3 separate regions of the Homo sapiens genome follow, and all the other regions are linked to region 1. The links come from fine-mapping of genetic effects on gene expression. A gene starts in region 1. Each other region holds a variant in brackets. All regions are shown on one strand. Distances are between the middles of the regions. Region 1 holds the start of BNIP2 (BCL2 interacting protein 2). Region 2 overlaps BNIP2 (BCL2 interacting protein 2). Region 3 overlaps BNIP2 (BCL2 interacting protein 2).

What was found. PIP is the estimated chance that this variant, and not a neighbour inherited with it, causes the effect.
Region 2: its variant is the best candidate, but not a certain one, in a credible set for the expression of BNIP2 in whole blood (INTERVAL, PIP 0.51).
Region 3: its variant is the best candidate, but not a certain one, in a credible set for the expression of BNIP2 in lymphoblastoid cells (GTEx, PIP 0.85).

What each region holds. Positions count from the first base shown.
Region 1 is chr15:59,688,065-59,690,735 of GRCh38, forward strand. BNIP2 (BCL2 interacting protein 2) reads right to left here and starts at 1,256. Exons shown (of 10, transcript NM_004330.4): 1 at 1,071-1,256. RefSeq lists an enhancer at 962-1,610 and a silencer at 1,024-1,533.
Region 2 is chr15:59,665,690-59,668,503 of GRCh38, forward strand. The region is part of intron 9 of BNIP2 (BCL2 interacting protein 2); the gene reads right to left. Among named protein-coding and RNA genes, the nearest start is that of GTF2A2, 9.6 kb to the left of the region's middle. The variant C/CT (reference allele first, on the strand shown) is at 1,249.
Region 3 is chr15:59,661,931-59,664,744 of GRCh38, forward strand. BNIP2 (BCL2 interacting protein 2) reads right to left here. Exons shown (of 10, transcript NM_004330.4): 10 at 1-2,190. The coding sequence ends at 2,139. Among named protein-coding and RNA genes, the nearest start is that of GTF2A2, 5.8 kb to the left of the region's middle. The variant C/G (reference allele first, on the strand shown) is at 1,395.

The DNA.
Region 1 (2,671 bases):
GTTCCGTTTGCAGAAGTGGATCTGTCATACTTCCGGTCTAAGCCCAGCAGTATTAGGCTGCACTAGAGAATATGAAGACTAGGAATAGAGTTTAGAGAAAATGTAAACCAAAAAGAACTAAGAATATGTGCAAAATGATCAAGAAACTAGTCTGCAGGGGTAACTTAATTGGGTAAGGTCAGTTGTAACTTTGAGGAAACATCCATTTACAAATTACAGAATTTGTTTCTACAATTGCAGAGATTCCTATAAAATGTTAGAAAAACTACATTTAATTGAAAATACGAAATCAGGTATTAGGTGAAATAGAGATCCTAATCAAGAGAAGGTGAGAATGAAAAAAGCAACACTAAAATGCAATCACATAGTTTATTCAATTAAATAAATAGGAGGCACCGTAACTATCTTGATGCAACACCGGAAAAGCTGTTTCGTCAAAGAGCTCACAAGACACAGACAAGTAACTCTCCAGCGGCATGAAATGCATCCAGAAATCCAAACCATTTTGCCAGGTATTTAAACAGAAAGGGTTGTGTCTAGATTCACGCGGGGACTCGGCTTTTGACGTACACACTCTGTATTTGGTTTAGCGTACTAGGGAAGATCTATTAAAGCCCTGATTACTTATGCTGCTTCCGTGTCTATTCCCCGCGGTTACGAGGCATACCAGAAGTCCAAGTTTCTTTGTTCTGTACCAGGACGGACGCTGGTCATAAATACTGAACCATCGTAGCCCAGCCACTTCACCCACACCAGGGTAAAAGGGTGGGGGAGCGGAGGAGGGGCAAGGTTCCATCCCGAGCACAACTACCAGAAACGGAAAAGCGACGGGGTGGGGGGCCAAACTGCCAAATACAAACAGGACCCAAGCCAAGGGCGGGGACCTAAGCAGGGCGGGGATCCAGGAAGCACCTCCCGAGCAGGTTCTATGGCTCCCCCTACCAAGGGTAACTCTCTGGGTTTCCTCTCCCCGGACGTCGTGGGCACGCGCCCGACAGACTTTCGCCCCTAGGCCGGTTCCCAGTCCAGCTCCGGAGCCACCGTGCCGAGTTCTCCCAGGCCGCACTCACCCCGGAGGAAGCCTTGGCCCCCTCGTCCTCTTCGCCCCTCCAGGCCGGCGACGTGGGGCTGACGGCCAGGTCGCAAAAAGCAGGGCCGAGCGGAGCCCGCTCCCCTCGGTCGGCGGTGGAGACCCCGGCCCAATCCCCCGGCCGCAGCGGTACGGCGTCGGCGGCAGCAGCTGACCCGGACACAGTGAGAAGCCCCGGCGGAAGTGATAACATCCCGACCTCCTCCGGGCGCGGCAGCCGGCGGTGGAGGCGGCGGGGGCGTGGCGGCGGCGGAGGCGTGGCGTCTTCTTGAAACCCACACAGCATCCCCCCAACCCCCTCAGACGTCACGGGCTAGCGCTCGCGCCTGCACTCGCGGGGTCGGCCTTCCTTGCCTGTGGGCGGACCCGTCGCGTCGACTCCTTATTGGTGGCGTTACTACGCCTCAAGGCGTTTCTTCCCTCTTTGCTGTTCGCAGGGACGCTGCCTGGTAGTTTCAGTTACTTTTGTTTTCTTTCTGCCTGCCTTTATTGATCATTACAGTAGGTGAAATTATCGATATCAATAATAATATTGTAATACAATAGGTGCAATTATCAATATCAATATTATTACAACAGGTGCAATTATCAGTATCATTACAATAGGTGCAATTATCAGCGATCAATAATGTGAATTATAAAATGGATGAAATAAGGGGAGGAGGTCGGGCGCGGTGGTTTACGCTTGTAATCCCAGCACTTTGGGAGGGCGAGGCGGGTGGATTACCGGAGGTCAAGAGCTCGAGACCAGCCTGGCCAACATGGTGACACCTCGTCTCTACTAAACAAACAAAAATTAGCTGGGCGTGGTGGCGCGCGTCTGTAATCCCAACTACTCAGGAGGCGAGGGCGGAGGCGGAGGCGGAGTTGGAGTTTGCAGTGAGCCGAGATCGTGCCATTGCACTCCAGCTTGGGCAACAGAGCAAAAACTCCGTCTCAAATAAAAGGAAAAAGGAAAAAAAAAAAAAAAGAAAAAGAAAAAAAAGAAATAAGGCGAGGAAAAATATCCGAGGCATCATTTTGGGGAGTTAGGCCTCAGAAGCGACCTTAGAGTTTGGTAATATTTGAGTGTGAAAAGCTTTACAGCAGTGCTTCTCTTCACTGGGGGAACGGTCGGTTTATTTTTTTCAATTTTCAATTAGTTTTTGACAAGTTAATAAAACAGAAAAATGAAAAGACATACAAAGTCCAAGTCAAAACTTTTTATCGTTAGAGTTAACAGCCATAAAATTACCTGCAAAATTGACATAGAGTTTTCTACTCTCTCTCTGTGAACCATTTGCAAACAGTTCTCAGAAGAGCCCAGGTCTATAGACCATGGTTAGAGTACTCAAGGTAAACTACTCAAATTAGACCATACTCAGCTGTAGAGTTTCAACCAAATGAGATTTGTTTGGAGAACATCATAGTCTCTCTCAGTTGGGCGTGCTGGCTCATGACTGTAATCCCAGCACTTTGAGAGGCCGAGTCGGTAGATCGCCAGACCTCAGGGCAACATGGCGAGACCCCATCTCTTAAAAAAAAAAAAAAAAAAAGAGACAGAGAAAGAAAGAAAGAAAAAGAAGCAAAGAGAAAGAAAGG
Region 2 (2,814 bases), 22 kb before region 1:
TGTGGGCATTAGAAGGATTACATAATTACCACATAATAATTACAGACAACCCTTCAAAGCTAACAGTCTATTACTATTACATTTGTAGTGGTCTGAATAACTGATGAAGGGACCTTTAAAACAATCCGGTATTAGATAAAGAAAAATATTTTTCATATGTTTTTATTCTCATCACCCATTACTATGCCCACCTGAATATTAGTGAAACAGACCTAAAAGCCCTGGTCTGTGGTAAAGCCAAAGTAACATTTTAAAATATTTAAAATATTGTTATAAAAAATTTGGAATGTATTTCTGATAAGGCATGCAAAATATATCAAATCCTCTTAACATCTGAAATATCCTTACCAACTAATTTCATAATTATTTTTAAACTCCCCTGAAACATTTTAACAATCTGTATCTGCATGGCCACACTTGCATCCAGTTGTTTGAAAGAAACATTTTAAACATTTAAACTGCTATCCTTTTTCTGTCACTGGGGACACTGGATCTCCCTGTTGTCAACATTTCTTCAACCCTCTTCCCCACAAGCCCCTCAAGAAAATGGTTTTGCCCCTTCTTCCCCTGCTCCCCAAAAACCTGCCATAGGGACTCATAGCTTCATACTCTTCTTAGCACCACTACTTATCATATCATGCAGTTGTCACCTTAAATAAGCTCCCTTGCACCTAGCTTCTGTAAAGTTTGGTTTAGGCTGGGCGTGGTAGCTGACGCCTGTAATCCCAGCACTTTGGGAGGCCGAGGTGGGTGGATCACTTGAGATCAGGAGTTCGAGACCATCCTGGCCAACATGGTGAAACCCAGTCTCTACTAAAAATGCAAAAATTAGCCAGGCATGGTGGTGGGTGCCTGTAATCCCAGCTACTTGGGGGGCTGAGGCAGCAGAATCGCTTGAACCCGGGAGGCAGAGATTGCAGTTAGCTGAGACTGGGCCATTGCACTCCTGCCTGGGTGACAAGAGTGAAACTCTGTCTCAAAACAAAACATGCCTCTCTACCTAAATTTAATTTAAAAATTAAATTTTATCATTTTCAGATTGACAAAAATTTATTATTTTTTAAGACTAAAGAAACTACAAAAAACAGAACGTTTTTGAAAGATACATGTAATCATTCTATTTATGGTTAAACACAAGTAAAAAAAAAATCAAGATAAAATAGTGACAGGTTTCAAACAATATATTTAAATAAAAAGTACAAATTCCATATTTTTTCTGATGTCTAAATTACTTAACAGTATTAAAAA[C/CT]TTTTTTTAAAAAGGCTTAATACAGCATATTTTATCAACAAAGGCAATTCACTGTGAAATCTATGAAGCAGCTGGCTTCAAAATATTCTACAATTACAAATCATATTTTTAATTTCAGCCACTTGTCTGTCGAATGCACAGCAATGCCTAGAAAGGAATGTGAAATCAGCATGATCTAAAATCACTGTCTACATTTCTATGTTAAAGTGTTGGTTAAACTGTGAAGTGTCATATAGAAGTGTAAAACTGATTCTATCACAAAGTCTACTAAATTCTCACTCATCAACAGAAACAAAATGTGTTCAAAGTTAAGAATGTTCCAGTTAGTTACAGTTGGCTCCTTAGAATGGTCAAGATAATTACATATAAATCTCTCACCGTAACTCTTAAGATTGTATTAAACTATGTTTTGCTAATTTAATTGCCAATATTTTAAAGATCTAACAAACTAGATCTAAATTCTACGTTTTTCTAAATTATTATACAAAATTCTAAGTATTTTATACCCTTGCCTTTCATCATCTATGTCAAGGTATCAATAGATAATAGTTTGTTATGCTCAAAGCAGAAGTGTTCAAAATTAAATTTAAAATAGAAAGTGAAGTGTTTAACTGTTAAATGGGACACTGAGATTTTAGGTATTTTATCACATGTAGAATTTGACTGGTTAGCAAGCCATTTAATTTAAGCATAAAAGGAAACCAATGTTGGTTAGCCAAAGTATATATGCATTGCAAATATAATAATCAACCCCAGGGAAATAAATTGAGAACTTTTAAAAAGTCTGCAAAAATATTTCAAAAGCACAAGTTAGCGATTTAAAGAAAATGGTGAAACAGATAAAGTCTTAAAATTATTTGGTGTTCCAAATACCATTTTTAGTAATTTCTCTGGTTTCACCATTAGTACTTAGACTAAGAAGGAGAGAGAAGGGTCTGTGGTTTTTAATTGCTAATTGGCATCATATATGGCAATAAAACATGGTGAATCCAAGTCATATTCAGCCTTAGGAACTCTGGGTTCACCCTGTATTTGGAAGTTGGGGTACATTTATATTTGCAAATGCTATTATCTTTGTCTACAAGCTAACCAACCAATAAGGAAGAGTTAGTCTGCAATGCAAATGGACTAGTCTAGATGCAACCCAGTCAAGGTGTGCATATACCTTTTTTGTTTCTTTTTAAACTTTTCTTCTTCATACCTTTGTAGGGAAGAGTTATTTCAGTAAATATACATGTTATGAAAATGAATAAAAACTTGAAAAAAGCTACTAAAAATAAACTCATTTAAATTTTCCAGCAAAACCAAAAATATTTACTACATGATGTAGAAAGTAAAAATTTACTTAATAAATCTGACTTTCATACATTAAATAGACTAAAACCTCAGGTGAGCAGAACAAAGAAACTTTTCCACATGCATTGTAATACTCAGTTATTTATGTTAACAGCCTTCTACCAAGTCCAAGAAGTTACATGGAAGAATGTGAATCTGATAATCAGAACAGAATTTCAGTCACTGGAAAACATTAAGGTTATGATGATTTAAATATTTTTATTTATTTAG
Region 3 (2,814 bases), 26 kb before region 1:
CACAGCACCTCATTTTCATTATATCCCAGGTGTTATCACTGTTGTCTCTGAATTTTAATGTTTAACAGAATAGTCTTCTACTTTTAAAAAAAATTCAGAAAAACATCACTTTTGCAACATGTATCTACAGTTAGGAGCAATGACTGCAAAATCAAAAATCAAAATAATGCAAAAAAGAGTTGAAGTTATTCTTCATATTTTTTAAACTGAAGAACCAAGTACTTAATGTGGTAGAAAACCACCTATTAAAAACCTCAGCCCATTTTGAGCAAGATAAAGATGTACAGATGAAAGACTACGTTAAATCGTCTACAAATATAGAATCTAATGACAAATTCAATATAATTGTTTATACATAATCCTTATATGGTAAATTCAGAAGGAATGCCTAACTTGTTATTGTTAGTTTGCTTCTTCAACAACAAGTGTTCCTAAAATGTGAGCAAGCAATAATCGTTTTGGCTCAATTCACTGTAATGACATTAGTTCAGGATCTGCCAAGAGCTGCTGGATCTGAGTTAAGTCAGGAGGCTGCTGAGGAATGTTTCATCCTGGGAATCCTCCAGCATCTCTCTCCTATAACTGGTTTTAAGTTAGCATGCCAAGTTTAGGACTGAGGAGGACAAAAAATATAGGAAAGTTCCCTTTTGTAACAGAAGGTTTGTAAGTACATGAGAATGGTCACAGCCACATGTGTGTTCAATCTAGGATAGACTAAATCTTGAAAGGTTAGCTCACATCCACTTCAATTTTGCTACTCTAGGCCACTGTTTTGTAAAATACCTTACAGGAAGGGTTGAAGAGTAGCCATGACCTTCAAATTTGGAAGGTATTATGCTTACCAGCTGTGTATGAGCCTTTCAAGTATATGACACAATATCAGATCAATCTGTTGTTTTAGAAATAATTTTGTCGGTAATTAAACTTTTTGTTTGGAGGCACAAACACAATTTATTTCAATGTAAAGGTACTACCAAATGAAACAGTTTAAATGCTTGTAACAAACGTGTTATCCAAAACAGCACAATATGATGATGCTAAGACTTACAAAATTAACCTAATTTACAGTATTGTCAAACATGATTTCATACAAACTTGAATAAACACCACATCTAACTAGGTCAAACAACTACCGAGTTCAAATAATTGATATGGAAGTATTTTGGTAAAGTGCCCATAGTGAGAGTTTAAAAAGCAGCCCCTGTTTTCTATAGAAAAAGTTGTGACAGTGAATAACTCATCACATTCTCTGCAATACTACTCAGCACTCATATACACTCAGGGGAGCAATACCCTGGACACATAGCTTATTTCACATTAGTGAACAAACTCAAGATTTTTATAAAGTTCTGACTTTGGGCCAGAAGATAAAATGTCCCATATATACATATATA[C/G]AAACCCTAATTCCTACCCTCTTAAATCCTCTAGTTCTAAGAATGGCTTTTTGACTTGTCTTTAAGTTTAGAAAGGAAAAAGTGTGCAATGCGCTTGCATCTGTACTTGCTGAATTATGAAACAAATATGTTAAATGAGAAAAAAACCTTGGGATGGTACTAATACACTTCGATTATATACATGATCTTTGGGTATTCATGACAATCAGTTTAACCATCTGTTGCCTTATGAAAAACTTAATTTCCTAAGTTACCCAGGAAATGTATTTAACCATTTACAAAAACAAAAATTCTAATATGCACTTTAGAAAATCGTGGTCTTATATACCTGCATATTTCTTCCATAAGACAGGTACACATTAAAAAATATTGCTCAATGACATAAAAATATATATTATTTCTTTCCTTTGCCATTTATGCATATAAATATTTCACCGAAGAAGATGCATCATTCAATAAACAAATGCAAAAACTACTTTATATAAAGTGTGGTTCTCTATTTAGCAATATAAAATATAAAACGATAATAATACAGTTAGCTATTAAAGAGCTAAATTCAAGAAATTTGCAAACCAGTACAGCAGTGAACAGTCCCTTGTATAATACAAAAGTCCATTATGAAAAAGTCAAGTCTATTTTGTAACAGGTTACATAAAAATATGGGCCAATAAATGCATTATGAATGCAGAAACAGCACTGCTCCATCAGCACATTCTTCAGTCTTGTTTGGACTAGATGCCAAACTTACTGTTCATTTTTCGGTTCATCTTGTTTTCCATTAAGTTCTTGATCAACTCTGTTTAATGAAGAATATATAAAATAAGAAACCAGCAACTGAACAATTTTCTTTCTAAAAATAATGACTATTTTAGCATAGAATATTACTCTGTTAAAGACAAAGCTTTGCAAAGAAGCAGACATAGTAAAAACAGTTACCAAACATCATTTCCCCAACCAGAAAAGAGAATTTTTAAAGGCAGGAGGACACTGGCAAGAAATGTGACCGTTGTTTCTTTAAAGATTATAAAATACTTTACATACAAATGCATATAAACTTTTTTTTTTTCTTATTTTTGAGACGGAGTCTTGCTCTGTCACCCAGGCTGGAGTGCAGTGGCACAATCTCAGCTCGCTGCAATCTCCGCCTCCTGGGTTCACACCATTGTCCTGCCTCAGCCTCCCGAGTTGCTGGGACTACAGGCGCCCGCCACCATGCCCGGCTAATTTTTCGTATTTTTAGTAGAGGTGGGGTTTCACCATGTTAGCCAGGATGGTCTCGATCTCCTGACCTCGTGATCTGCCTGCCTCAGCCTCCCAAAGTGCTGGGATTACAGGCGTGAGCCACCGTGCCCAGCCATAAACTTTCTTAAAAGTTCAAATTACATGGCATATTAAAATCTTGACCTGTAACTTGGCTGTG